4 linked regions of the Homo sapiens genome follow. The protein of the gene in region 4 purifies or fractionates together with the protein of the main gene of each other region. This does not show direct contact. Each region holds a gene or a part of one and is shown on either strand. Other genes may lie near its edges. The genes, in order: PDCD11, CEBPZ, GLYR1 and MACROH2A2.

The links.
Region 1: the proteins of MACROH2A2 (region 4) and PDCD11 purify together in Homo sapiens (affinity purification with mass spectrometry; 2 studies listed by BioGRID and IntAct, with this or other methods). This does not show direct contact.
Region 2: the proteins of MACROH2A2 (region 4) and CEBPZ purify together in Homo sapiens (affinity purification with mass spectrometry; 2 studies listed by BioGRID and IntAct, with this or other methods). This does not show direct contact.
Region 3: the proteins of MACROH2A2 (region 4) and GLYR1 purify together in Homo sapiens (affinity purification with mass spectrometry; 2 studies listed by BioGRID and IntAct, with this or other methods). This does not show direct contact.

The regions. Positions count from the first base shown.
Region 1 is NC_000010.11:103,413,570-103,420,715, forward strand, and holds part of PDCD11 (protein RRP5 homolog), read left to right. Parts: intron 1-396; coding exon 397-521; intron 522-700; coding exon 701-761; intron 762-1,435; coding exon 1,436-1,582; intron 1,583-2,921; coding exon 2,922-3,173; intron 3,174-4,222; coding exon 4,223-4,363; intron 4,364-4,870; coding exon 4,871-5,065; intron 5,066-5,968; coding exon 5,969-6,139; intron 6,140-7,146. UniProt on the Homo sapiens protein: Essential for the generation of mature 18S rRNA, specifically necessary for cleavages at sites A0, 1 and 2 of the 47S precursor. Directly interacts with U3 snoRNA. Involved in the biogenesis of rRNA.
Region 2 is NC_000002.12:37,214,545-37,221,690, forward strand, and holds part of CEBPZ (CCAAT/enhancer-binding protein zeta), read right to left. Parts: intron 5,930-7,146; coding exon 5,841-5,929; intron 2,494-5,840; coding exon 2,440-2,493; intron 1,875-2,439; coding exon 1,772-1,874; intron 1,665-1,771; coding exon 1,596-1,664; exon of another isoform or gene 777-1,595; intron 409-776; coding exon 342-408; intron 1-341. UniProt on the Homo sapiens protein: Stimulates transcription from the HSP70 promoter.
Region 3 is NC_000016.10:4,830,214-4,837,359, forward strand, and holds part of GLYR1 (cytokine-like nuclear factor N-PAC), read right to left. Parts: intron 2,700-7,146; coding exon 2,561-2,699; intron 2,009-2,560; coding exon 1,766-2,008; intron 1-1,765. UniProt on the Homo sapiens protein: Cytokine-like nuclear factor with chromatin gene reader activity involved in chromatin modification and regulation of gene expression. Acts as a nucleosome-destabilizing factor that is recruited to genes during transcriptional activation.
Region 4 is NC_000010.11:70,048,047-70,055,977, reverse strand, and holds the start of MACROH2A2 (core histone macro-H2A.2), read right to left. Parts: upstream 3,133-7,931; 5' UTR 2,978-3,132; intron 1-2,977. UniProt on the Homo sapiens protein: Variant histone H2A which replaces conventional H2A in a subset of nucleosomes where it represses transcription. Nucleosomes wrap and compact DNA into chromatin, limiting DNA accessibility to the cellular machineries which require DNA as a template.

The sequences.
Region 1 (7,146 bases), about 33 Mb from region 4:
GCCCAGCAGAGTTTTTCTTAAAGGGCTATGTCATAAATACTTTAGGCTGTGGGCCCTGTGGTCTCTGTCCTAATTGTTCAACGCTGCTGTTATGGCATGAAAGCAGCCATAGACAGTACGTAAATGAACAGATGGCTGTATTCCAATACAACTTCTATTTACAAAAACAGGCACTAGGCACAGTTGACTGACCTGTGTTCTGGACTTTCCCTGACCTTGCTGAAATTCTGTGATGATAAAGAGCAGTTTTTTAGTGTGAAGAATTACTTAACCAGGCAATCAAAGTACTGTTTTTATGGTACATGATAAGTGTTGAGTCCTCTCTATGGGCTGTAAGGTCTCATTGGCTCAGACCTGTTGTCCCTGGCTTATCCTCAATCACTTGGTACTTTGCAGCTCAGCCATCTCTCTGATTCTAAGAACGTCTTCAATCCTGAGGCCTTCAAGCCAGGGAACACTCACAAGTGTAGAATTATTGACTACAGCCAAATGGATGAACTGGCCTTGCTCTCTCTACGAACGTAAGTCTGTCATTAACAGGTAGGGGTGTAGAGATGTGCACCTGTACATGTTCATATTCCATTTCTCCTGGCTGTGCTTGGGAAGGGTTTTCTTTCTTGCCAGCATGCCTGTGGTAGCCCTGAATTTTAGGCAACCTCTGCCCTAGTTTATTTAATTCTGTGTTTTCTCCTTGTCCTAGGTCTATTATTGAAGCTCAGTACCTTAGATATCATGACATCGAACCTGGGGCAGTGGTAAAGGTAAGACCTCAAGCATATAATTAGGTACTGCCTCACCATCAGGCGTTCTTTAGTTCACGCACAGGTGACTGTCAGCCCGTTAGTCCTCATGTTAACACATTGAATGTCATGTTCCTTGCTTCTGCCTGCTGACTAGAATTTCTTTCTCTTTCTTTGGGTAACTCATAGTTAATTTCAAGGTAAGATCTTACTAGCACCACCCAGCTACACAAAGGCAGTAGATCATAAATCCTGAGATTTGGGATTTGATGGTGGTTAGTAGACCTGATCAAAAGTTAGTCCTGTGATTATTGATCTACCTGGGATATTAGTGAGAAGCCAGTTCCAGGTACCTGTCCTGTCCGACCATTTGGCTCTAATCGAGCAGCTCCCTTTATATGTAGAGTTTATTCCTTAGGAGACCTTGACATAGTCCCTTCCTTTGGGGAATGTATTTTAAGGCACACAGAAAGCACATGCTCACACAGAAAGATGTGAAGGCTCCCATAAATAAAGCTGACAGAATAATCCAGCTCAGTGTGGGGTGTGTGCTTCACCCATGTGCCATCTGGAATAACAGGCACAGTTAGCCCAGGAAGTTGGCTGTGAAGGGGAGGTATGACATGCCTTGTTGTAAGAGGTGGGGGAAAGGCCATTCTTGAGACATTGTGGCAGCTTATCTTTGGATTCTCTAGGGCACAGTGCTAACCATAAAGTCATATGGGATGCTGGTGAAGGTGGGCGAGCAGATGAGGGGCCTGGTACCTCCCATGCACCTGGCTGACATCCTGATGAAGAATCCGGAGAAGAAGTACCACATCGGGGATGAGGTCAAGTGCCGGGTGAGCCTCCTGAAGGGTCTCTTGGGGTTTTGGCTAGATGGGAAGAAAGCAGTTCTCAACTGAAGTTTCTGCCTTTTTCCACAAAGTGAGTGTGTAATGTCTGTAGTGTGTCTTGTGCTGTACCTGGCATTGGGAAGAGAAAAGTGAGTCCCCGTTTTGTGTAGTATAATTGGGAGTTAAAATATTCATACGTGATGAGAGAGCAAGCCAGCCTGTGATCTTTTGCCATGTGGCTTGGTGCAGGTTGTGTGCTGTGGTCACACCTGAGAAAGGGGAGGTGAGGGTGGGCTGGAGCAGCCAGAATTGTTGACGTTATCAGTAGCGACTGCCACGAACAGGACTGCCACGAACAGGTATTCCGTGCCAGTTTCTATGCTAGGCATGTGACAAGCATTATTTCATTTAATCCTTGAAACAACCCTAACAATTAAGCACTATTATCTTCATTTTGCGGGTGGGGAAATTAAAGCTTCGGAAAGCCAACCGTCTTGCCCAGAGTCACACAGCTAATACATGGCAGAACAATTCAGCTCTGTATGACAATAATGTTTTCTAGATTTCTGGCAGAGGTGGAACTTGAAAGGATAGGTAGGATTTGGAAGGTTGGGGAGAGCAAAGGTTGTGTTCTAGGCACAGAAATAGCCCTGGCAAAGCTGCCAAAACATGGGTGATTTATGACAAAGGCTCGAATCCGAAGGAAAGCTTCATAGGGTTGTGAAGATCCAACATGATGATGCACACAAGAGTGCTCCACGGGCAGGCACTCAGCATGTTAGATTTTCCGGTATTCAGTTTATCTCATCGTTATTGACTCAGCAGAGGTAATGATTGCCCATTGGTGCAAAATTTTACAGTAGTGGGATCAAGGGTTAAAAATACTTTTTCTGTCTTTAAGGAGATGACCTTCTGAAGGGGTGAAAGACAGTTGCATCTCCATCTTATTTCATAGCTAATAAACGGCAGTACTAAGGTGGTAAATTGGTTCATCATTGGTTCTGTTAGACTAGATGCAAAGCCCACTAGGAAGGAGCCAAGATGGTGTAGAAGTTAGTGTAACCAAGACTCCATAGAGGTGATGTAAGATAATTAATGTTGCTTCATGGTCAGGAGAGGGTAGTTTGCAGCAATTTATGGGAGGAATTACATTTGAAATAGTGATTTGTATGCTCCAGATTGTCATACAGCAGGAAGAATCTGCCACTGAGATGATTAGAGGAAAAGCTATAGCAGGTTCTTGGGGAATGGCCCCGTGGCTTTTGGGTTTAAGAGGTTGCAGAGACCAGCTCAGTGGCTCTCATGATAACAGATAACTTGATGACAGCCTGTGTCCCTCCCCTAGGTTTTGCTTTGTGACCCTGAAGCCAAGAAGCTGATGATGACCCTGAAAAAAACCCTGATTGAGTCCAAACTACCTGTCATTACCTGCTATGCCGATGCCAAGCCTGGTCTGCAGACACATGGCTTCATCATCAGGGTCAAGGACTATGGCTGCATTGTGAAGTTCTACAACAATGTGCAGGGACTGGTGCCCAAGCATGAGCTCAGTACTGAGTATATCCCTGACCCGGAGAGAGTTTTTTACACTGGCCAGGTAACCCTTCCCCTAGACAGGTCCCCTTTACCCTTGGTGACCCCACAAACACAAATATGAAGGAGCAGTAAGTAGTGGGGCTGCCTTTAGGAGGCTGAGGAAGAGAGCACATGGGGCAGTGGGTGTGAGCCGGCTAAATGGAGGAGACGGGGAACAGAACAGAGAGAAAGCCTCAGCGGGGTTCAGCAGAAGCTGGCAAGCTGATGGATCTCAGGCACGCATGGAAGAGGTCAGTCTTTACTTGTAATAAACCTGTGCCTCTCATATCGGAAATTGTTTTGAGGTCACTGTCACCACATGGGGGCAGTGCTGTAAAACTAGTAAGTCTTGGTATCACTAGGAAAAGCATTTTTTTATTCCTTTAAACGACTTTAAACAGATAGATAATAATTGTACATATTTATGGGGTACAATATGATATTTCTTTTTTCTTTTCCTTTTTTTTTTTGAGACAGAGTTTCCTCTGTCACCCAGGCTGGAGTGCAATGGCGTGATCTCAGCTCACTGCAACCTCCACCTCCCAGGCTCAAGTGATTCTCGTGCTTCAGCCACCCAAGTAGCTGGGACTACAGGCATGTGCCGGCATACCCGGCTAATTTTTGTATTTTTAGTAGAGATGGGATTTTGCCATGTTGGCCAGGCTGGTCTCGAACTCCCTGGCTTCAAGTGATCAGCCTGCCTTGGCCTTTCAAAGTGCTGGAATTACAGGCCTGAGCCACTAAGCCTGGCCACCATGTGATATTTCAATACATGCTTACAATGTGTAACGATCAAACCAGGGTAATTAGCATCTCCATCACCTCAAAAAGAAAAATAATTTTTAAGACTTGGATTGTACAAAAAAAGTTACTTATGTCTTCCATTTATCCCAAAGGCTGCCCTGGGGGATTGTGTAGCTCTCAGTGCATTTCTTCTTTTCACTGCCTCCTGATCTGATCCAAAGGCTCGGTAGATCTCCCAAGTCCTCTGCAGCAGTAGTGGAGGGCACGTTGCAGGGCCTGCAAGGCTTGCTGGGAGGAGTTGGCCAAGCCTGTGTGGTTTCTTGCCAGGTGGTGAAGGTTGTCGTATTGAACTGTGAGCCATCCAAAGAGAGGATGCTCTTATCCTTCAAGCTGTCGAGTGATCCAGAGCCAAAGAAAGAGCCTGCAGGACACAGTCAGAAGAAAGGAAAAGCCATTAACATTGGGCAGGTACGTGGACTTCTCTGGACAAGCTATTTTATGTTACAGTGGCAGAGAGCAGGGAACCACTAACACATGGCATATTGGAACCCACGAAGCGGAAAGATAGAGGTAGCTAGATAAGATTTTGGGGCTAGAGGGGTTCATACGCATTCCTTCCTGTGTGTCAGAACAAATGGAAGCTGTCCCTGAAAGTCCTGTTACAGTGAGGCTTTTCAGCAGTGGGCTGCTGACCTCTTTCCTCTCGGGTCCCTAGGGCCAGCCTGCAGTTCTGGCTTTCCTGGGGCTCCGTGGAGGGACTTGAGAGAGGAGTGCGATGGGTCCACCCATGAGTCCTGGTGAATGTGCACGTACATGCATGCTGGGTGGTTGGGGTGGTGGGTGGGGTTTGGAAGAAAGCTGCCTCTTAGAGATCCTTGGTGCCGGAGTTTAATGCCTCCAAGCCCTGCCTAATCCAGACCAGGTTGTTCTCTGTTCATGACAAGTGCTATTTTTGTCTTTCTCTTCCCTGGGTAGTTGGTAGATGTGAAGGTTTTAGAGAAGACCAAAGATGGGCTGGAGGTGGCTGTCCTGCCCCACAACATCCGTGCTTTCCTCCCCACATCTCATCTGTCGGACCACGTTGCCAACGGCCCATTGTTACATCATTGGCTCCAGGCAGGTGACATCCTTCACCGAGTCCTGTGTCTGAGCCAGAGCGAGGGGCGTGTTGTATCCTTGACTGGTATCTGTGGAGCAGAGGAAGGTGGGGGGCCATGGGTGCTTGGATGGGAAATTCTGGGGAAATTAGACAGCTATTTGACCTCAGAAATATCTCCACAAAACCAAACCAGTGATGAAGCCTGTGCTATGGAAAGTAAGAGCAGGCCTGAGTAAGTGCTGCCAGCAGATGCTGGTGGTCAGGGCGGAGTAGCCTGAAAGGTTGCAGAGAGGGGGACTCTCGGAGGCTGGAGAAGGAGGCCCAGTGGGGTGCTTGGGAGCACATCTAGTTTTCTTGGGGCTTTCAGTGCCTGCCCCTTGGGTTAGAACCAATAATAAGGTGGCTTCTGTCCCCCTTTCCTCTTTTTTTTTTTCCCCTATGCCTTCTCCCCGCGGGGCTATAGGCTCAGGAATATTCCCTTTGGTCTTTGCATGGGTGCTTTGAAGGAGCTTCTCACAGAATGTAAAGTTCATTCTCCTGGGAGTAAAAATGGGCAGAGGAGGGAAAATGAGTTCATCAGTGTAAAGAGGGAGTAGTAGAGGATTGTGTGATGGCTGATCCAGCTGCCAGACCAGGGGGATGAGCCATCCCTTTTTGGTGTCCTCTAGTAATCTGCAGATTAGTGAATCGGGAATGGAATAAAACCGTGATTCTCAGCTGTAGTGTGCAGTTGGGCCATGCAGATGGCTGGGCCACACCAAAGTTTCTAATTCAGTAGGTCTAGGTGGTGCTTGAGAACTTGCATTTCTCCTAAGTTTCAGGCGATGTTGATGCTGCTGGTCTGCACACTTAGAGAATCGCTGTAGCAGCAGAGATCAGCCTGCAGTTCTGTCCTTCTCTGTGGAGAAAGGAGATGGGAGAGATGGACATTTCATCTGCCCTTTCTGGAACATTCCTTGATGAAGTACCACTAGCTTCTTTGCAGGAAGCCAGCCTTGGTCTCCACAGTAGAAGGTGGCCAGGATCCCAAGAACTTCTCAGAAATCCATCCTGGAATGCTGCTCATTGGTTTTGTGAAGAGCATCAAGGACTATGGCGTGTTCATCCAGTTCCCCTCAGGTCTTAGCGGACTGGCCCCAAAAGCTGTAAGTTCAACTCCATGTACAAGGGCTTTGAGGAGAGATACAAGGTCACAGAACCTGAGGGCGGGTAGGGAGGAGTAGGATACTTTATTCCTTTTTTTTTTGAGACAGTCTTGTTCTGTCGCCCAGGCTGGCTTGCAGTGGTGTGATCTCTGCTCGCTGTAACCTCCGCCTCCTGGGCTCAAGCGATTTTCCTGCTTCTGCCTTCCAAGTAGCTGGGATTACAGGTGCCCACCAACATGCCAGGCTTTTTTTTTTTTTTTTTTTTGAGTAGTAGAGACAGAGTTTTACCATGTTGGCCAGGCTGGTCTTGAACTCCTGACCTTAAGTGATCCACCTGCCTCGGCCTCCCAAAGTGCTGCGATTACAGGTGTGAGCCACCGCACCTGGCCAAGGATACTTTACTCTTTTGAAAGATTTTCAGGGGTACCTCTTAAGGTGTGTGTGACATAAAGGCACCTGGGAGGGGTGAGTGCAGCTGAGCTTTTGGCCCATGTTCCTCTCGCCCAGCTGTGTGACCATCTGGAGGAAGGGACACCTTTCCCACTCCACACTACACATTGAAGGCCTTAGTCTCCAGTGTGAAGATGACTGCACTTGTTTTTATTCTCTCAGCACACTTAGACAGGGAAATTGATCATCCTGAGCTACTGAGTACAGGTTTTGCAGACTTCTGAGGTTTTTGAGGTGTTAAGGGACCAGAATGTCTTTGAAATTATTACCTCCCCCACCCCCATGTCATTGAGTCCTGCACTTTCAGATGGGAACAATCCCAGCAGTCCCCTAGCAGAGCCTCCTGGTGTGCCTGGCACGTCAGCCGAGGCCTATTGAGGGGATGGGACTCACCAAAGTCATGGAAGACAGCGAGCAAATGGCGTGCAGCTGATTGCTGCTGCAGATCATTCATCAGTATTTCTTCCCCTCTGTAGGCCTGTCTCCCTGGTGTTTTGCCTGGGAAAATCTCATTTGCATCCCCTGCCAGAAACATTTTAAAAATGGGAGCAGAGGGG
Region 2 (7,146 bases), on a different chromosome or scaffold from region 4:
TCCAAAAAGAAGCATAAAACAAAATTTATATGCTAAATTAACAAAACTCCCAAATTTACTTTAGTTTTACTAAGATATATTAAGATTAGCAAAATGACGGATTTGTAAATTTTCTTAACAAACACAGACATATCCTTTGATCTTTTCAAAATATGCTGATTAGATTTCATAAAATGAAGCATTTAAAACTAAGGCCACTTCTCCCACTAATGTTCCATGGTCTATTTACACACAGTAGTAGATTATTGAAGTAGATTATTTCATAAAATGAAGCATTTTATGAAATCTAAAAATTTAAATTTTAGCAGTTTCCCCAAATGAAACTATATTATGTATAGTACCTGTGGAAAAACACTTCATCCACTGGTATTTGGCTTTCTTCTTTTGCAAGGAACTCCTTACTGTTCACTACAAAAATAAATTTAAACATTTTAACTTCATATAGCAATCCCCTTTATGTTACTCAAGCTCTTAAGACAAAATACAGCATAATCTGTAATTCTAAAAATCTCAGAATTGTGTGGGAAGGTAGACAGAAGGGACTCTGGAGTGCAAGGGACAATCTCTGAAAAAGTCTGTGTGAAGACCCCCCCAACATTTGAAACTTCACTGGCTACAGCATAAAGTAGGCAGTACATAGCTGTCAGTGCCGTTACAGTGAAACAACAGGGTTCTCTTACTGTTCTTCATTTGCATCCAGGACCCAACTTTCAAGAGAAATAAAAAATTCAAAGAGTTATTTTAATAAATAATCACTTTAAACTTGTCATTTTCAGCTCAAAAAATGACAAGCTTGCCATTAATGCGTGCCATTCTGGGAATAAACAGGAAGTTAACAGAGTTTTCCTTTATACTGAGGAAAACTAAGAAATAAGGAACTACAAGAAATCAGTTTTACCTCTTCAGAATAAAAATTGCTGACTCATCCTGAGTAAAAGGAGATTTGGCTTTTAATTCTAACTTACTAACTGTGGGTAAGTCCTTTTACATCTCTGGACCTCTGTGAAGTAAGTCACTGGAAATTAAATGATCTATAAGGTCTAATTTAATCCTGGTCTCTGAACAAAAGGGAGATGAGATCTGGTATGCAAAGAAATGTCTGCTTTGAATACAACAACAGACTCAGATCCAGAAGATGGCTAGCAAATATAGAAGTAGGTTATTAAGTTTAAAATGATGCTCTGTGACAAAACCAGCTGTGGGTTTTTGTGCTGCTAAGCTGATATTAGAGAGCTTTAAGATGGTCTGAATTGTAAGCAATAATAATTATATACATAGGGGTTGTGGATGAAGCTACGGATGATAAAATGGTGACAACTGTCAAAGCTGGGTGATGGTAATGGGGAGGGGGTTCATCATACTATTTTGTTTATTTTGGATATGTTTCAAATTTGCTGTAATAAAGTTAAAAAAAAAAAAAAAAAGGCCCAGTCAGATACAGTAGATTTAAGAATACCTATTCTTGGGAAAAAAGATGGATAATGTCTTTGATGCTCAGGTTTTATTCTGATAAATTAGAACAAAGAATAATACAATTTATGCATCTTTGTCTTATATTGTCTTTTCAGTTTCAACTGTCTAAGGTTTATACTTACCAGGAAGATGACGAATATCCTTAATAAAATGTTTTCTTTTCGGCTGCATCACAACACTATCTGTGTTTTCTGAAATGTAAAATTATGACAGTATAATGCAAAACCTAGTTATAAGCTCATATTGTTTATTATGTATTAAAAATGAAAGCCAAATAATTCACTAAATAGAAGCATACCTTTGCCTTTATGGGGCTTTGGATTTCGGTATACAAATCGATCCAAAAATCTCATTAGAGTGAAATCCTGCAGTGGGTCCCCTGAATACTGAATATAGTTTCCCTGAAAAGTGGAGCGGGGATTTAAAAACTTAATTCAAATTATGTCTATGAATCCAAGTAAGAAAAAGGAAGAAAAAGATAATTTCTATTACACTGTATTGAAGATACAAATATGCAATAAATGACTCTTCAAATATCTCTCTCATGCACATTATACTTAAAAAATTAAACACACAGATACATATACATACATATTCTAGGATGTAATGTTGATTTGATGGATAGACTAATATTAATAATGCAGGCCATCTAACCATTAATCAGGAACCAAACCCTGAAGTGGCAAACACAGCAAATGGGAAAGTGAGGCAGTATTTCTCCAGGAGAGGAGCTAGAAGGTAATAAATAAATAACTGCGTGGCTTTCAATGTCTTATTGCTTCCACTCATCTCAGAGTGGGAAAAGTTATCTGCTACTCTGTATGAAACAAGTCACTGCTTCTTTATACGAGCAGTAAAATGTACAAGATTCTCTCTGTTAGAGAAAACACTGTATGACCAATTATTGATTATCTAAAATGATACTTTTTTTCTTATTTCTCATCTTTGGATTTATTTTAGACTCACCTGAAGGATGGTCTTTGCAAAAAGGGCCACGGAGGGATGAAAATGCACAGATAACTAAAAAGAAAAATGTGAATAATATCAATATTTCTAAGGTCGACTCTTAGTACATTTATAGCTTATTTAAGAAAATCGGGCTGGGTGTGGTGGCTCACACCTGTAATTCCAGCACTTTGGGAGGCTCAGGCAGGCAGATTGCTTGAGCCCAGAAGTTGAGACTGGCCTGGGCAATATGGCGAAACCCCATGTCTACAAAAAGTACAAAAATAGTCAGGGTGTGATGGTGCGCGCGTGCCTGTACTCCCAGCTACTCAGGAGGCTAAAGTGGGAGGACTGCCTGGGCCCAGGAGGTCGAGGCTGCAGTGAGCTGACATGGCACCACTGCACTCCAGCCTGGGTGACAGAGTGAGACCCTATTTCAACAACAACAAAAATGAAAATGCAAAAATTTGAAATTTAAGCCAATACATTAAAAAAGTGATTCTCAAAACATATTGGTCTCAGGACCATTTCCTACACTTAAAAACCAAAAATTCCATCAGTTTCTATTCAACAGGTTTATATCTACAGACACCTATGTTATAAAAATAAACAGAAAAATTGTAAATACTTATAGGTCCATTAAAAATAACAATAAAGCGGCCAGGCGCGGTGGCTCATGCCTGTAATCCCAGCACCTTGGGAGGCTGAGGTGGGCGGATCACGAGGTCAGGAGATCGAGACCATCCTGGCTAACATGGTGAAACCCCATCTCTACTAAAAATACAAAAAATTAGCCGGGCGTGGTGGCGGGTGCCTGTAGTCCCAGCTACTCGGGAGGCTGAGGCAGGAGAATGGTGTGAACCTGGGAGGCGGAACTTGGAGTGAGCCGAGATCGCGCCACTGCACTCTGGCCTAGGCAACAGAGCAAGACTCTGTCTCAAAAAAAAAAAACAAAAAACAAAAACAAAAACCATAAAGCTACTACATACTAGTAAGTAGCATATTTATGAAAAATAATTATGCAGCCAGGCGAGGTGGCTCATGCCTGTAATCCCAGCATTTTGGGAGGCCGAGGCGGGCGGATCACGAGGTCAGGAGATCGAGACCATCCTGGCTAACACGGTGAAACCCCGTCTCTACTAAAAATACAAAAAATTAGCCAGGCGTGGCGGTGTGCGCCTGTAGTCTCAGCTACTCGGGAGGCTGAGGCAGGAGGATGGTGTGAACCCGGGAGGCGGAGCTTGCAGTGAGCTGAGATCGCACCACCGCACTCCAGCCTGGGCGACAGAGCAAGACTCTGCCTCAAAAAAAAAAAGAAAAAAGAAAAAAAGAAAAATAATTATGCTTCAGGACGAAATATATAGCGAGTAGTATTACTTTACAGTTTTGCAAATCTCTTTAATGTCTGGCTTAACAGAAGAGAGTGGATTATTTCATCTGCTTCTGTATTCCACGTTGAAACATACAATCTGGCCTCATGTGTAGAAAATAGTCTTTCACATAGCTGTGAATTTTCTTCTTTAGTACTATACCAAAACCAAAGATTAGTTGTAATATGGAATCTGAAACCCATATTCAATTGGCTTTTGGTACTTGCTACTTAAAATTATTTGGTCTACTTTGAATCAATCATTTATTCACTCAAGAATTTGTAACATTCAGGTGGCACAGTGGCTCATGCCTGTAATCCCAGCACTTTGGGAGGCTGAGGTAGGTGGATCACCTGAAGTCAGGAGTTCGAGACCAGCCTGGACAACATGGCAAAACACTGTCTGTGCTAAAAATAAAAAAATTAGCTGGGCATGGTGGCATGCTCCTGTAATCCCAGCTACTCAGGAGGTAGAGGTTGCAGTGAGCCGAGATCGCGCCACTGCATTCCAGTATGGGTGACAGAACCTTCTCGTTTCAAAAAAAAGAATTTGTAACATTGTGCATTGGTCATTGGAAAAATACCATATGCAGTCCTTCCAAACACTGGCACATTTCGTTATACTTTACCACAACAATCACATTGTTAGAACCACTGATTTCATCAGAAAAGTTTTACAAATTGAGAAACTGTCAAGCTCAAGGTGGTGGTTACAAGATTTTTAAAACTTTAATCTTTGCTCGAAAGCTTTATTTTTGAATTTTATTGCTGACAACAAATACTGCCAGCTTTTTTGTTTCATTCATTTTCAAGAAAATATCTCCCAAATACCTAAGCCTGAATAACCAGTTTGTCAGTCTTTCATGAAAGAGCAGCTAGATGAGCTTGCAACAACTGGTAAGCACTTGTCCTTGAGACACGTGACAACCTTCATGCTTTAGGTAGGCAGCACAGGTATGTTACGCATACTTGCTATGTATGCACACGAAATACTAAAAAGACATGTTACTTTAAGGTCAAGACACTAAAATCAGTAATTCTCCCTGTGTCATCATTCTTAAGTCATACTGGCTTTTTTTTTTTTAACTGCACATATGTGGCAGTGATGAATATAATGGCTTCTGATGCAGCTTGGTGCTGTCTTTATTCAGGATAAGCTGCAGCAGTTTTACCTATCATTTCTTTTATAGTATCAGTGCCACCGTCAACACAGTGATGAAAACAAATAATGTACTGGTATTACTATGGAAAGAGCTGTGACCTGGCCGACTCACTAAAAAGGTATCAGGAACTCTTAGTGGTCTGGCCGCACTTTGAGAATAGCTGCATAAGATACTTACTGGCTTTACACAAAAAGTCACAGAAAGGTTATTAAAAATATGAATTCCTCTTACAAATTCAGAAAAGTAACTTTACTTGCAAAAAATTTTATCATAAAACTTTTCAGAGGTATCTAATAAATAAAGCAAAATTTATCCATTTTCTCAACTCTATATGCAATAATCTACCTACAAAAAGCAACAGTCATAACCCATGCATGACATCCTTATTTTACGTGCACACTTAAGATTTTCTACAAAATGAACACTTCACATAGTATCTTCCCCCAAATGTGGACTTTTAATGTTTATTAATGCTTATAATTATCATAAAAAAACAAAAACTTCAAGGCATTACATCCTCAAGGGCAAAAATATACAGCATAGGCCGGGCGCAGTGGCTCATGCCTGTAATCCCAGCACTTTGGGAGGCTGAGGCAGGCGGATCACAAGGTCAGGAGATCAAGACCATCCTGGCCAACATGGTGAAACCCCGTCTCTACTAAAAATACAAAAATTAGCTGGGCGTGGTGGTGGGCGCCTGTAATCCCAGCTACTTGGGAGGCTGAGCCAGGAGAATGGCTTGAACCCGGAAGGCGGACGTTACAGTGAGCCACAATCATGCCACTGCACTCCAGCCTGGTGACAGAGGAAGACTCTGTCTCAAAAAAAAAAAAAATATATATATATATATATAGCATAAATGAATAAAAGACAATTTGAAATTATTTTACCTTTTTGAGTTCCCAAAGACTTGTATTTTCAGCTCCACAGAACAGAGGGTTTCTACTGAATGGATCGTATTTATTTAACTGTTTCCCACCTAGGAATAACAAAAAAAATACGATTTCTCAAATGCTTTCTTCCTAGCCCAAGAGGTCATTAAAAGCACCACCATTAATATTCTCAACAGATATCTCCAACATTCTTACTTAGCCAAGCAACCTAGATTAAAAACTCTGAGCTCCCTCAAGAATTTGTCTTGGTACTTAAGCTAGCATCTGCTCTTGAATAAAGCAGAGAACATGTTTATCCCAAACACCAAAAGCTTTCTTCAAGGCCAGGTGCAGTGGCTCACACCTGTAATCACAGCACTTAGGGAGGCTGAGGCGAGTGGATCATTTGAGTTCAGGAGTTCGAGACCAGCCTGGGCAAAATGGTGAAACCCCATCTCTTACAAAAAATACAACAAAAAAACTAGCCAGGTGTGGTGGTGTGTGCCTGTAGTCCCAGCTATTCGGGAGACTGAGGTGGGAGGATCACTTGAGCCCAGGAGATGGGAGTTGCAGTGAACCAAGATCGTGCCATTGTGATCCAGCCTTCCTGACAGAGCAAGACCCTGACTCAAAAATAAGTAAGTAAAAGCTCCCTTCAAAACTTCTCCTTTGGCTGGGCACAATGGCTCATGCCTATAATCCCAGCACTTTGGGAGGCCAAGGTGGAAAGGCTGCTTGAGACCAAGAGCTCGAGACCAGCCGGTGCACAGAGTGGGATTTCGTCTCTACAAAAAACACAACTAGCCATACCTGGTGGCACGAGCCTGTAGTCCCGGCTACCTGGGAGGCTGAGGTGGGAGGATCGCTTGAGTTCAGGAGTTTGAGGCTGCAGTGAGCCATAATGGCCCACTGTACTCCAGCCTGGCCTGGGTGACATAGTGAGACCCTGTCTCAAAAAAAACAAAAACCAAACCAAAAAACCCCAAACTTCTCCCTTTCCTAAATGGCAACAAAAGGTGCCCATTTTGGGGCCAAAGAGGTGGAAACGTTAAGATGGAAATAATCTGAAGATGAACTAGGTCTAAAGTCTTTTGGAGCTTTAGAGTGCTTCAAATATTTGTCATGAAAGTATGCCCAGAAATAATTCTCACTTGGAACAGGTCTGACATTATCTTCATGTTTTTAGAAACTCAGGATTAAAAAAATTTAAAACAAAGATTTTTCAGAACAAACTAGGAACTGACTACCTTCCAACACACAAGCTCTTCATCCTTCTAAAGGATTATTCTCAGTTTAGTCTTCAGGGGAACTGATGGATTCTTCT
Region 3 (7,146 bases), on a different chromosome or scaffold from region 4:
ACTTTGTCTTTTTTTTTTTTTTTTTTTTAAGGGAAAGGCTCTTACTATGCTTCTCAGCCTGGTCTTGAACTCCTGGGCTCATGTGATCTTCCTGCCTCAGCCTCCCAAAGTGCTATGATTGCAGGTATGAGACACCACAACTGGCCTTCCCAGCTTCTCTTGAGAAAAAACAGACAATTTGGCAGAAGCTGGCTAGAACCCTGTGGACAGAGCATGACCTCCCCAGACTCCCTGACCATGGCCAGCCCTGCTGCTCTGAGCACCAAGGCAGGTCAGCTGGGGTGCCTGGCACCCGTGCCACTGCTTCTTAGGTCCAGTCAGCTACAGTTGCTTCCATTACCTGCCTGGGCTCGCTGGTGTCTGAATTTTTGAGCCTTGATCCAAGGTCTAATGTTCCATCATGGCCTCGTCACCCAACTGTTGCTGCCAGCCATCTGGCTTCTGTTCTCTTTATCCTGCTGTTGACAATCCTACCGCGTTCCTGACACAGTCCCCTTCACTTTGAAATTCTTCTCTGTGGCCTTGTAAGACCGGCCCCAAATCTTGTCAGCAAGAAGGCGAGAGAGGCACTCTCACTGCTTTATCTCATCTTGCTAGCTCCTCCTGCTCCTTCCTGCCCCAAGCACGGCATTCTTGTGGCAATGCAGGCCTCCGCGCTTCCCTCTTCTCCCTCTCTTCCTGAAACAAACCCATTCCACTGCCCGGACTCAACTACCCTTTTACAAATTCACCTCCCAAATCTACATTTCTAGTCCTGAGGTCACACCAAGCTCCCAGGCTGTCTAGGCCTTGCCTCAAGTTCTTGACATTCCAAACAGAACTGGTACTCTTTCTCCACAAGCCACCTCTACATCCCCAGTCCTCTACTTTTAAGAAAGTGATGACCACTTTCCCAGGAATGAAGATGGAAATCCTCTTTTCCTTTTTCTCATTCATCCTCTATATAACCAATTATGGAATCTTAAGAACTCTTCCTCTGAAGTGCCTCTCACCTCTTTGCTTGCAACATTTGCAATTACCCCCTTATGAATGCACGCCTAGACTTACCTCCTAATTGGCTCTGAGACTTTCCCCTCTGCACTCGGTGACTACTGGTGCACACACGGGAGGCACACACTGCCACTGGCTCAGTCACCTTCCCGGGCCCCCACTGACTCCAAGACGCTTTAGTACCACGCTGCTTCAGTAGACCTTCAGGCCCTCCACGATCCAGGGACAAGCTTCCTTTTTCTCGGCTTTCCTCACTATCCTCTCCCTGTTCGAGAGTATCTCCACCAGCACCGAGCCTCACACGGGCTGTGCCCTCCATCTTTGGAATGCCTACCCTTCTTTCTTGCTAAGCCCCTCCCAGGGCCAGCCCTTGTGCACCGGCTCAAGTGGACTGCTCTCCTGCCTCGCGCTCCTACTTTACACCTGCATCCAGGCCGTGTCTCTCACCTGGTCTATGGGATTCTTTATTTTTTAATTTTTTAAATAAGATTCGGGGTCTCACTCCATCACCCAGGCTAGAATGCAGTGGTGCAATCGGCTCAATGCAACTTTGAGCTCCAAGGCTCAAGCCATCTTCCTGACTCAGCCTCCTGAGTTGCTGGGATAAAGCATGAGCCACCGCACCTGCCCTGCAGGATTCTTGAGCACAGAATTCTGCTCCCACTCCATGAGCAGAGTATAGATAAGCATACTACATAAGCATACTGTAGAGCTTAACTCTACCTTGTACTAAAAGGACATCACTAATCCCGGAAGCTGCAGAGAGAAAACAAACCTTCTCATCCTTTGGGGGCCGACCCCGCTTCCGGGGACTTTGCTCTTGGGCTCTTTTCAGAGGGGATTTGGAGCCTCTCTCTGAAGAGCCTGAAGACACCCTCTTCTTTCCTTCTCCCATGTTCTTCTTCACCTTCCCTTCAGACAGGCTAAGTTTGCGCTTCTCATCACCTGAGTTTGGCCTACTTCTCTCCTCACTGGAATTACGTCGATTCTTGTCATCAGAAGAATTGTGGGATGACGTCTGAAAGTTTAATAATAATAATGATAACTACCACCACAGCTGCTGCCGCCATCGCCACCATCATTTACAGGTGCCATGTGCTGCTACAGGCACTCTGTGTGGTCTCCTCACAATGACCCTAGAAATAGATTCTGCTGTCGTCCCAGACATTGGGAGAAGCAGATTTAAAAAATATATATATCAAAAGTCACTTTCCCTATGTCCCAAAACTAGAAGAAAGGATTTAAATCTAGGCAGTATATGTATTTCAGAGGCTATGCTCCTAATCTGTGTGCTATGAAAGGAAGAAATGGCCTGTGCTAGACTCAAATGCTGAGATATTTCTCCTGGGTCCAAGCAATTTTCCTAAAAGCAACAACCTACTCCAGAAAGGTTAGCTGCATGGAGTTTCAAACTGATAAGCAAAACGCTGACACCTTAGAACTGAAGTAGCTTTCTCCAGTAGCATTTCAGAAGAACAAAGGTTTGCGTTTGGGTGACATTTAATCTGTTAGTTGCTATGCAAAAATCACCAGTCTGGCATTGGTAGAAAGTGAACATTGTGTCTCTCACCTGGTCTTTCCCTTTGGCTCTCCTGAGGAACTCTTCGACAGCATCTACCGCTTGCTGGAATCGTTTACCCTTGTTAATTTTTATCATTTCCTCTTTATGAGCATGATATGGCTTCAGCTGTTCCACTTTGATCCAGGCACTAGCAGAAAACAAACACAAAAAGGGTGTGAACCATATAGCATATGCCCTAAAGTATCAACAACCTCACTATGGCACGGTGTAAATATCCATTTGGTTTAACTGGACTTTGCAATAGGCCTTGCCATTTCTTTCAAAACATGCTATCAACCATCTCAGAGTCTTATGTCTAAAGTATATTTTCTTGAAACAAGTCAAGCAGAACAACCATCACCACCACTGCAGCAACCACAAATCAAGTTCCTCCAGTGAAAGCACTGTGTTGCAGATTATTTATTTCCACAATCGTCTATCAGCCTCCAATGCCCAACCACATATACGCTGCCACTTGCTCAGGGCAGAAAGAAATCTGGAGACCCTTTCCCATTCTCACCAGGCAGCACAAATGGCCACACACAGATCCCTGGGAATCAGGGTACCTGGAAATGTGATAGATGATAGCAGCATTACTATGCAGGAAAATGCCTGCTGCCTGTCAACAATGGGAACCAGATTTATGATCTGTTGATCCACAGAGAGTCAGGGATGTTACAGAGCTGAAGAAATGCAACATCTTCTAAAATTTGTGGTTCCTATGGATATTCACAGCCACTGAGCCTATATTTGTTCATAAATGATGGTAACCATGGCTACTAAACCACACAAAACACGGAACACATGGTTTGGAATAAGGGCAGCAGTTACAAAAGGAGGCATTTAAAAACAAGATGGCATGCTGTTTTATGATGTCTCAAAAAAAAAAAAAAATAGAAACAAGATGCTTGAGATTAAAGGTAGAAGAACATACACCTCCGATATGTAATTTTTAATTTCAACCATCAATGTGTAACACATGAAAGTGAAAGTAGTCAGCTGTCAATTCTGGGGTTTCTGATCTGTCACACTAACCTGAACAAATCTGCTGCAGCTGGCTTTCTATGGCTTCCCTGAATGGCATGCAGCTTATAGAATCCAAGCACAAAATAATTTTATAGGCTTTACAAGGTATCAGTTAGTTTACATGTTTTAGCCTGTGATACAGGTTTCACAGCATAACCTTCAGAAAAAGTAGGTCAGGTTAAGGATACAGAAACCCAGCTATCTCACAAGCTTCAGGTTGTTTTCTTCATAGAAAGCTAGAGAATATTCACTAACAGCAAGTGTTAACCTTTGCACATAAAAATAATGTTACTAACCCTCCACCAGCTACCTGGACTTTGAGTGTGCTGCTGGTAGTTGTGATAATGGGGTCTGTGCAAAAACACAGACCTGGGATCATCGGCCTGCAGATGTCAGGCAGCGAACCACTATCAGGCATGCCACCATGGCTAAGTGAGATGATGAATGGAGATACAGAAGCTGGTCTCCCTGGCACAGCTCCAACTAGAGGAGTTAGGCAAATTCCTTTTTTTTTTTTTTTTTTTTTTGAGACGGAGTTTCACTCTTGTTGCCCAGGCTGGAGTGCAATGGGGCGATGTTGGCTCACGGCAACCTCGCCTCCTAGGTTCAAGTGATTCTCCTGCCTCAGCCTCCCAAGTGCTGGGATTACAGGCGTGAGCCACCACACCTGGCCTTTTTTTTTTCCTTTTTGAGACAGAGTCTCATTTTGTCACCTAGGATGAAGTGCAGTGGCACGATCTTAGCTAACTGCGACCTCCGCCTCCACCTCCCAGGTTCAAGCAATTCTGCCTCTATCTCCCGAGTTGCTGGGACTACAGGTATGCACCACCACACCCAGCTAATTTTTATGTTTCTAGTAGAGACGGGGTTTCCCTGTGTTGGCCAGGCTGGTCTTGAACTTCTGGCCTCCAGTGATCCACCTGCCTTGGCCTCCCAAAGTGCTGGGATTACAGGTGTGAGCCAGCAAACTCCTTTCCAGTGACCAACTCATCTTAAAGTTTGAAATTCAACATGAGAGCGCCAATGAGTCCAATCTGCTGGGAGGAAAAGTGGAAGGAGATTTCGACCCCAGATTTTCTGGCAAGAATATCCCTGAACTGACTCCGTTCCCTCTCCTTACAGGGATGCTAATGACAGGCCAGAGCAATCAGATGCAAAGTCAGACCCAGCCCCAAAAGCCAGTGAAGCTACCATACTAACCCGTGGGTCTGAGATGACACAACCAGTATCAAGGATGAAGCTTAAGGAGTCGTGACCAGCCAGTTCTTCCTAGGAGCTTCTGGTCAGAAGCTGAGAACCACACAAGTTCCCAATATAGGACCAAAAAGGTGATTTTTATGGAACCCCTTGAGATGGGACAACAGACTCCGAGACTTGCTAATCCCACCCACGCCATCCTGCTACCTCCATCCCTGCCTCCCACTACCCAGCCTCACAGGAACCCGATTCTGAGGGAACAGAAAGGTGAGGATGTCTGTGAAGTGCCAAGGAATCAACCCCATTTTTTGTTGAAGCATCTTACAAGGTTTACTGATTTCTGCTAGAAGGAACTGTACAGTCAAAATTCCACTCACTTTAAAGCATTTGAGATACTAAAATTTTCCTCTTTACAACCATCTTCGAAACATTAAAATGGCTAAATGAACTGACAGTATGAATAGGATGGTAAATCCAAGAAATGTTAATCTATTTAAGGAATCAACTTATTGCTGGAGAAGCATCCTGTTACATCAAAAAACAGCCATAAAAAACCAGCTTGGCTGGGCACGGTGGCTCACACCTGTAATCCTAGCACTTTGGGAGGCCGAGGCAGGCAGATCACCTGAGGTTAGGAGTTTGAGACCAGCCTGGCCAACATGGTGAAATCTCGTCTCTACTGAAAATATAAAAATTAGCTGGGTGTAGTGGCACGCAGCTGTAATCCCAGCTACTCGGAAGGCTGAGACAGGAGAAACACTTGAACCCAGGAGGCGGAGGTTGCAGTGAGCCAGTATTGTGCCACTGCACTCCAGCCTGGGCAACAGAGTGAGACTCCACCTCAAAAACAGTAACAACAAAAAAACCCAGCTTACCAGAGCTCTATGGGGATTACCTCTTGAAAGCAAACCAAACTTAAATCACTTTGGCTATCTGAATACAATTTTTTCTCTAAAGGTTACACTTCTTTCATCTTTTTTAAATTTATTTTTTATAGAGATGGGGTTCACCATGTTGCCCAGGTTGGTCTCGAACTCCTGAACTCAAGTAATCTGCCCACTTCAGCCACCCAAAGTGCTGGGATTACAGGTATGAGCCACTGCAACTGGCCTACCTCTGTCTTTTTAATGAGAATATGCTTTTCAGTTGGCGCCTCAACAATGCACCACTGTCTAATTCACGGAGGCACATCAGCCGGGCCTGGCACACCACTGGTCCTCAATAAATAATCACTGGGTAAATGATTCCTTCCCAGATGTTCAGGAGGATGTACTGCTCACCAGTGAGTTAAAAGGTGCTACAATGCTCCAGTGCGTAAGGCTTTAGTGTTTTTGTTGTTGCTACTGTTGGTTTTTTAAGTGACTGTTTCTTTCCTTGATAGAAGCTGTAACTTTTGATTTTCCTATCATCCTCCCAAGACTTAGATGGAGCTATATCTTTCAGCCCAATTGTGGCTGGGAAGTCAGAAAAATCAAGCTTATTCAAGCTGTATTTAAAGTAGGAGACTTTGCTTTTTATGTACAGTAGAATGAATGACACATTGTGATAGTAAATAGCTGAAAACAGGCAAGGTCATTACAGAGAAGGAAAGCGGATGTCTCGTAAGATATCTGGCTACGTGGAGATGAGCAAGATAAAAAGCAATGCATGTTATGTGCTACCACTCGTGCAAAGACAAGGAAAATGGACTGACCACGCACTGATATCTCTGGAGGGACACATCATCAGAAACTGGTCTAACTGGGTGGCTGTGGGATGGGGATGAATGCAACTGTTTCAATGTTGACAAGTTTTTGTTTTTGAATGGTGAACACATATTATATTGGAAAAAAAAAAAAAAAACAAAACAAATCAATACTAAAGGCCTCTGCCCTAGAACACAGGCTATGCCGACTGCCCAGAGGGTTTCCTCCATGACTTCCTGGTTTGCAGGTTTGCTCTGGTGGGTTGCTGCTGCCTGGCTGCTGGCATAACTGCACCTGTAACACAGCCAATTTACCCTGGTGACCTGACACTCTTCCTATAAAAAGTCTCTTCATCTATGAATACAGAACCGCCACTAAGGCACTCTCAGATTACTCCAATCAAAATGAATTAAAATCTGGTATTTTCAAAAACTTGCACACTTCTGATTTGCTTTCCTCTTAAATGAAAATCATACATGTAGGGCCCGGTGCGGTGGCTCATGCCTGAATCCCAGCACCTTGGGAGACCGAGGCAGGTGGATTGAGGCCAGGAATTCGACACCAGCCTGGCCAACATGGCGAAACCCCATCTCTACCAGAAAACACAAAAATTAGCCAGTTGTGGTAGCACACGTCTGTAATCCCAGCTACTTAGGAGGCTGCGGCAGGAACTGCTTGAACCCGGGA
Region 4 (7,931 bases):
CTCAGTATGTATAGATCTGCTTCATTCTTTTGAACTGCTGCCTAATATTCCAGAAGACAGATGCACCAGAGTTTATTTAGCCATTCCCTGTTGATGGCTGTTAGGCTGTTTTCTACTTCAGAATGACCAAAATTGCAATGAACATCCTTATACATGCTGAGCTCACGGATGCCTGCTTCTTTGGGTGACATACTGAGAAATGGAATGGTGAGTCACAGAATGTGTGCATTATTAATTTTATAGTGCCAAACTGCTCTTCCAATTGGTTATATCAATTTACACACCAGTCAGCAGTATATGAAAGTACCTGTTTTCCCACTAGCTTGCCAAAATCACTTTTTACCTTGTTTTACCTGCATGTATATTTTATCTCCTAGGCTTGGGGTTGTAAGCTTTATGAGAGAAGGGCCCAATGACTTCCTTATATTTCATTTCTTTCCCTATCTAGAGGTGTTTAAGAATTGGTGTATACTCAGGAGGCTGAGATGGGAGGACCCCTTGAACCCAGGATTTCGAGACCAGTCTGAGCAATATAGCGAGACCCCCATCTCAAAACAACAACAAAACAAACAACAAAAGACTTGGTGCTCAATAAGTGTTTGTTGAATGATCTCTAACCACAAGTTCTTTGTTAATCTCTGTGCAATATACTTTCCATTTACCAAGACTGCATCTAACTTGGAGGTTATTTCTTAAGGTTGAAAAACATTCTTAAGAAAGTTGGCTGAATTTTTGCACATCCCTCCCCGGTAACAAGTTACAGATACCTTTCATTTAAAGTTGCCTAAGACAGGACTCACCTCCTGTTCTGCTGGCAGGAGGCAGTGAAAACAGATGTGGTTGTCTCAGACAATAGCTAGCAGGGTGTCCCACCCACTGGGAAATGGCAGACCAGAGGCGCTTTAAAAATCCTGGGAACCAGACAGAAGATGGAATGGTGAGGGAGTAGGGTCAGAATCACAGGGACACTCCGGATTCAAGGAGGTAAATTCTTTTACGCAGTTTTGATATAGAGGAAACCACTAATAATGTGTAAAGTCTGACAATTAATGGATCCAGGTGAGGTGTAACTGTGGTAGGATAGGAAAAACCAGAGAAGAGGAGAACTGGGCATGTTTTAAAAGGAAATTTGGCTACAGGAAAGAGGGGTTATGAAGATGTGAATTATGCGACTCAAGATAAACTTTTCCGCCGGGCAGTGCCTCTATTTATTTATATGTAATTTTAGGCTAAAACAATTCTAAAAATCACCAGTATGTTTCCAAATCTTGGAGCTCTTAACATTTAGTTTGAAAATAAAAAGTGTGTTAAAACGGATTGAGAATTATGTGTAGCTTAGTTTGTGGTTCAAAACAACACACACGAAGACACGTTCTCGCTCTTAATAATGTTTTCTTTTTCTCTCACCTATTGAACCGTTTCAGTAGCAACTGTGCAGCCCAGTGAGGTGACAATTGGATTTCAAAACAAACACAAATGAGCAAAGTGAGGAAACCATTTGCCGCGGTGGACTAATGGCCCCTAGGGGATCCTGGGGTCTGTGGGGCTTAGAACTGGGCCCTTGTTTTGAATTCCTCTGAGGTGGACAGAAGCTGGAAGGACACCTCAGTTCCAGCGTGGCTGTGACAGGGTAACTGCCCTTAAAATCAGGGCAGCGGAGCCACGGTTCCCATCGCGTCCCCTCAAACACTCAGGGCCCCGCACTTTGGTTTCTCAGCCCATTTCTTCTCGCGCCTTTCATCCCTTCACTCATCCAGGGCCGTTGCCAAAAAACCCTGGCAAGGACCAGGCCTCAGTCAGGCCCACGGTGGTCCACTGCACGCGACGGGAAACTCCTGGAGGAAGCTCGTTTGGCCCTTGGGGAACCAATGCCCCTTTGGCCATTGTTGTAAGGAACAAAGAGGGCAAGAACTGAGGGCGCCCCCCCAAGGAAAGGCGGGGGAGGACACCCACGGGCGATCCGGGGGGCTGGCCGGGCTGGGGCTGAGGTGCGCCGGGGCTGGAGGCTGGGAGCCGGGGGAGGCAGGGCTGGTCCCCAACCGCCGCGCCCCGCGAGCGATACGCACGGCGTCCGGCGCCCGGCAGAGCCCTTTCCTGCGCCGCAGCCAGTTTACTTTTATTCCCTTTTTCGATATTTTTATTATTATTATTTTTTCCCGCGCAAAGCGGGAGCCAGACTGCCCAGGCGAGCCACGGCCGGGCCGCCATTTCCCGGTGAAAGCGCAGCGCGCGTCGGCACCGGGCGCCCCGGAAAGGGAACCGAAGGGGAGTGCCCGGCCTCGCGCCCTCTTCCGCGCCGGCCCCGGGGCGCACGCCCGCCCGCGGCGCCCGGGTGTCCGCGCAGCAACCCCCAGCCCTCGCCCCGCCACCCGGCGTCCCCGACCTGACCTTCCCCGGCGCGGCCCGCCCCCGGACTCGGGTCCCTAACCTCCGCCCGGCTGCTCCGCGCCCCCTCCATTGTCAGCCTGGAGCCGCCGGCGCCCTGCCCGGGCACCTTCAGAGGCCCCCGAGCGGCCCTCCCCGGGCTCCCTCGGGCCCTGCGCAGCCCCCCACCCATCGCCCCGTGCCCATCGGCGGCCGGGCGCCTCCGTCCTCCCGCTCCTGCGCCCGAAACTCCGCATTCCCAGGAGACCTCCGCTTCCTCCGGGTCCAGCCTCGCCTGGGGCCCGCTGCTGAACCTCGCATCCCTCCTCCTTCCCCTCTCAGTACCCTCGACGCCCCCGGCCCCTCGCTGGCCGCAGGAATTTGACCACTTCTTTAGCAGCCCCCCCTTTATCGCCCAAGGAAGCAAGTTGGGCAGCTGGATTTAAGAATTTGTTTTTGCAGAGGGTGGGTCGGCTATCGAGGGTGCGCCCGCAGGGGCTCGGGGGAGAGGCAGAGGTGGTTCTCTCCGGCCCCTGCACTGCCCCGGCGGCGCGTTTTGTTTCCAGACCCCGGAGCACCCTAAACAATAATGCCATCGCCATGGCGGGCTCACCTGGTGCTGCGCCGCCTGCTCCCGGCGCCCGGTGCCCTCTGCGCGCCCCTCCACGGGCGCAGGTTTGGCCCACGCGGCGCCGGTGCCGGGCAGGACTCTTTGCCTTTCTTTGGGTTCTATCTGTGCGTGTCAATGGCGGCAAGCGGCAGTTCTCTGGGCCGCGGATAGTAGCGGGGGGAGGAGGAGGAGGGAGAAGGGATTGCTCCTTCTCCACATAACCACCTCTAGGAGGAGTTGCTCAGCCTCATCCCCCGCCAGCCCAGGCTCCGCGACGGGTCCGGGGCTTTCGGTGGGGCTTGATGAGCTATTGTCCTTCAGGAGTATTAATGGTGAAACCGCGCGGCCTCCGCGTACTTGGCCGATCTGCGAGACGAGCCGAGGGCCACTCGCTAACATGAGGCTTTCCCCAGAACTGGGCACAAACGCGCTATGGTCGCGATCCAGTCTCCTGTTAGCTGGATCCACCTTTGGTGGGAGAAGGTGGCGTGGGCGTTCATCTGGCAGCTCTGGGGAGAGTCTTCGAAGGGGAAAGCGAAAAATGCCACCTTCTATATTTTTGTGTCCTTAAATAATAACAAGTACATTAACGTTTGTGTCCACCACTGGGAAGAGTGCATAGGGCGGCCACAGCCACGAGAGCTGAGAATTTATATCCGTGCCTGTAGGCTTTTTAGAAATTAAGACCGATTTAGAATCCAGCGTTGCATAATATTTGGAGAGGCAGATGTATGTTTTGGTGGGTGAGACTGTGTGTATGGGCATAATTTTTAATTGGGTTGCTTTACAAGGTGTTAATTTGCAATATCCCAACGGGTATTTAGATGAGCGCGAGGCTATTGTCTTCAGGACCAGTTTTTATTAGTTACTAGAAAATGCATCTTTATGGGGGTGTGGTGGACACTGTCGGGTGTGATAATGGGGATTAGCAGTTGCTGTGTTCCTAGTGGAAGCCAGTCTCGGCTTTGTATTGTGAGTTGTTGGCCAGGGCTCCATGGCTGGAGGGGAGTCAAAAGAATGTGTTTATTTCAGTGGGAAATACTAACTTGCTGTGGACCATCCAGGTTTCCTCTGATTTCTCCTACAGTCAAAGGACTGTGAGAGGCAACATTTTGATCCCTTCCAAAAAGAGAAACCGGTGCAAACAGAATTCTCCAGCCTTGGCCAAATGGCTGATTTTTAAAGCTGTTACATTTGGTAATATTGTGTATATTTGCTACTACAAACTTGTAACTATTTAGGCAGTGGGGACTTTGGAGTGACTGAAAGCCTCCCAGTGCCTGAGTGGGAAGAACTCATGCCTACCACCCTCTGCGTCTCTACTAGTTAGTTAATCATGGCTATTGCTGGCGTTTATAGATAGCGGGTTAGGTTTAGAACATGTGCATTTTAAAGTGTATTTGCTGAGAAATCAGCCATGTTTCTCTCTGACTTCCTCCAAATCACGCATATATCATCAACATATGCATAAGCCTCTATTTCAGTCTCCTATGGCTTCTCAAACTCCCCTGGACTCAACAGTCTCTGTTTCTTGGGGCTTCCTTTACTCTTTTCCTAAGCCTTTCACGCCCTCTGTGTATGACCTCACTGTTCTTTGTCTTGGAAGGTATTTTCCAGGTCAGATATCCAGTCAGGATAAAGTCTTCTTTCCCCAAGATGTATATTTAAAGGGTTTCAAATGATCCCCTGGGGCATCCCATAATGATGTCCTTTCCCATTCCTAAAGAAAGGGTCTCTCTTCTTATACCTTCAGGTGTCCATTCTTCACCAGAAATAACCATCAAGCCAACATTCAAGAGAGTTCAGGAGTTTTCTATGAGTGCTTGAAAAATACTCATACTCTGTCATCCAGTCAGCCAGGCTGACTGAAATATAGTTGAATAATTCATCAGTAGATATTAGATTCACATTCTCCTTGTAATTTCCCAATAAAAGTGGCATATGTGGTCATTTTTATGTGAATTTTATATAACAGTTCATTCTAGCATTTTGTTATGTGCTATCCTGAGAGAGGCTGGATCTAGTAAATTTACTGGTTAGGATTCTCCCATTTCATACTGGTTGGTTTCTTCAGACAGATGATGCTGTCACAACTCAGAAAATCAAGGAAGAGGTCAGCTTCAAAATACTCTGATTCTTAGGATAAAAGGGTTCTTAGAGTTCACCTAGTGGAAACCTTTGCTATAGGAAGAAATCTGGTATTTGGAAGGGTGAAATGACTCAGCCATGGCCTCGCAGGACATTAGTGGGAGATCCTCCAATGCATGTCCAGATACCCAGTCAATGCAGTTTCCGCCAATTCCAAACTTTTCAGGATGTATAGGGGACAAATATGCCACTTAATATGCAGATCTAGTTGAATTATGTGTGTTTAATACCGAACATTTAACACATAAAAATTTAACACTGAGATAGTATCATATAATATTATATAAAATTAAAATACATTTTAAAAAGTCAACATGATCATAAGTTGATAAGTAATCTAGAGTTCCGCAGTGGTCTCTAGCTCGGGGAACCTCTGACAAGTTGAATAATAAAGAATGATAAGAGCTTACACTTATTGAATGTTTACTATGTGCACTGTACTAAGCACTTTATCCTAACTTATTTAATCCTTTCAACACTTGTATGGGGCAAGCACTATTTTCTCCTTTTTACAGACTGAGGCAGGGAGTGGATGAGAAACTTTCCCACAGTTATAGAGTTAGGAAGTGGCAGATCCATGCTCTTAATCACTGCCTTAATCTGAAGGTGGAGAAGTGCATTTGTTTTAAGCAAAGGAATTTTGCACTCAGTCACATGATCTGAGTCTAAGAGGGGCCCTTGGGCCCCTCCCAATAAATGTCCCTAAGGAGTCAGCAAACAGCCTAATTACAGGAGGGTTGGTTGATTACAGTTGCACTGAAAACATTTTCTTAACCCTTGACCTGTATGTGTGCATAATATTATGAATACAGGTATTGATTGTGAGTTGACTCCATTACAGCAAACATGTCTTTAATAATTTTATTGAGATGCAGGATGAAGCACTTCTCCATTTAGAGAGAGGCATGTAGCATAATTTAGAGATGAAAAAAAAAAAAGAATCAAATGAATCAGTCATCCAACCAGATTTGTATCCTATTGGGTTGCTAGTAATTCATCCACAAAATCATCTACTTCAAAAATAGCTTCATTGATTTACCCCCCAAACCCTTTTTCTTGATCCAAATTTGTGATTTTGTGTAAACTGAGTGGACTTTTATTTTTCATGATTAGTTCTAATCAGTTTACGATACATATTATAATTTGTGATCATTTTACCCTCCTAGGATCTTAATATGCAATTACCTTAGTAATTTCCTGACTTTGCATCTTCCAGAATTTACCTATGTGCATGTAGGTATATATTTATATCTGGCATATGTAAGTATATGCGTAAGATTTGTAGATCTAAATTAATTTTATTTGGGAATTTCTGATCTCCTTTGAAGTAACCTGAGATTCCCTGGGAGTGTCATAGAAACAGATGGAAATCATTGGTTTATGCACTTCTTTGGATGTAAGTTAGGAACTCTAGACACTGTATTAATTTTATCAAGACACCAACTGGTATAACTCTAAATAACAATGTGGGAGCTTGAGGTTATGAATGCAGACAAAGCACCAGGCTAACAGTATCCCACCCTGTGAAAGAATAAACACAGCGTCCAAAAGTACGTTGTAGCTAGGAAAATACTGGACAATTTGACACATAAATTTTTGTTTAAGCTGGAAACTTACAAAGTCTTTCCTGTTTTTATATTTTGAATAGTGAACATGATTGGTGTTAAACTTTTATTTCCTTGATCACGACTGATGACTTTAGGATCTTAATCATGTGTGGAGGGGGAATAATATCCTTAAAAAAAAAAGGACACGCAGGCAATCATTAGGCCAACAAAGACTATGCTTATAATTTCTGGCTAAAATGAATGTCTTGGTCTCCTAGCAAAAGAAACATTTTACTAGTCCTGGTTCTTAAAAACAGTGACAAACTATGTCTTTTTTGATACTAAGTCTTGACCCTTTGGTTCTGGGAAAGGGGATTTGCATGAGTAGGTATGTGTGTGTATAGATGCATATTTAGATATGTACATTTATATATGAATCAAATATTTGATGCATATGTTACATGTGTATACCTTGTAAGATGAGTAATGACTGAGATTCCAGTGTGCTCAGAGTTAGGGCTGGTTTGGATTTTAAAGAAATCTACCGAATGTTTAGCGTTTAACTGATGAACTATATTGTAAAAGAAAATGAAGTGTTTCAGCTTTTTAAGACAAATACACTGTCAGTCCCAATTATGCAAAGTTGTGGTTAGGAAAATAAGGCACGTGGTATCATTACGTTTAATGGAAACAGAGCCCAGAGCTAAGGGGAGTGTGCCAGTTGGTAACTTGCTCTGATCGGTTACGGAGCTTTCTGGGAGATCATCCTGTTACCTCCAGGCAGAGTTCTTTGTGACAATTGTGATGAGAAGTGGCAGCAAGTATCCAGAGAGTTTGGACTTTAGCATCTGTGTTGGCAGATCTGTGCAATGTGACCTCACACCTAAACAAAATTGCTCTTTACAGTTTAGGCCCAGTCTGGAGAATGGGGGCATTGATTTTCCAAATCCACAAATGCAGAATACCATAGTGAAACTATAATTTATTTATACAAATGGTGTGTTTTTACAAAGGCCATCTGTCAGTTGACTCTCTGATCTAAAACAAATCTGTTTGTTCCCCCAGAAGAAATAACATGTCTGTTGAAAAAAGATTTATGGACGACAGGCTGCCCAATCCACCAACCATTGGTATAATAGTAACTATTTATGATATATTTACTTCTAAAGGAGTGCTGTGAGTGGAATCTATTACTTGTAAAGTATGGTAATTAATTTTTCATTACCTCAAAGCCAAGAAATGGAGCCCACTTGCATTTATTA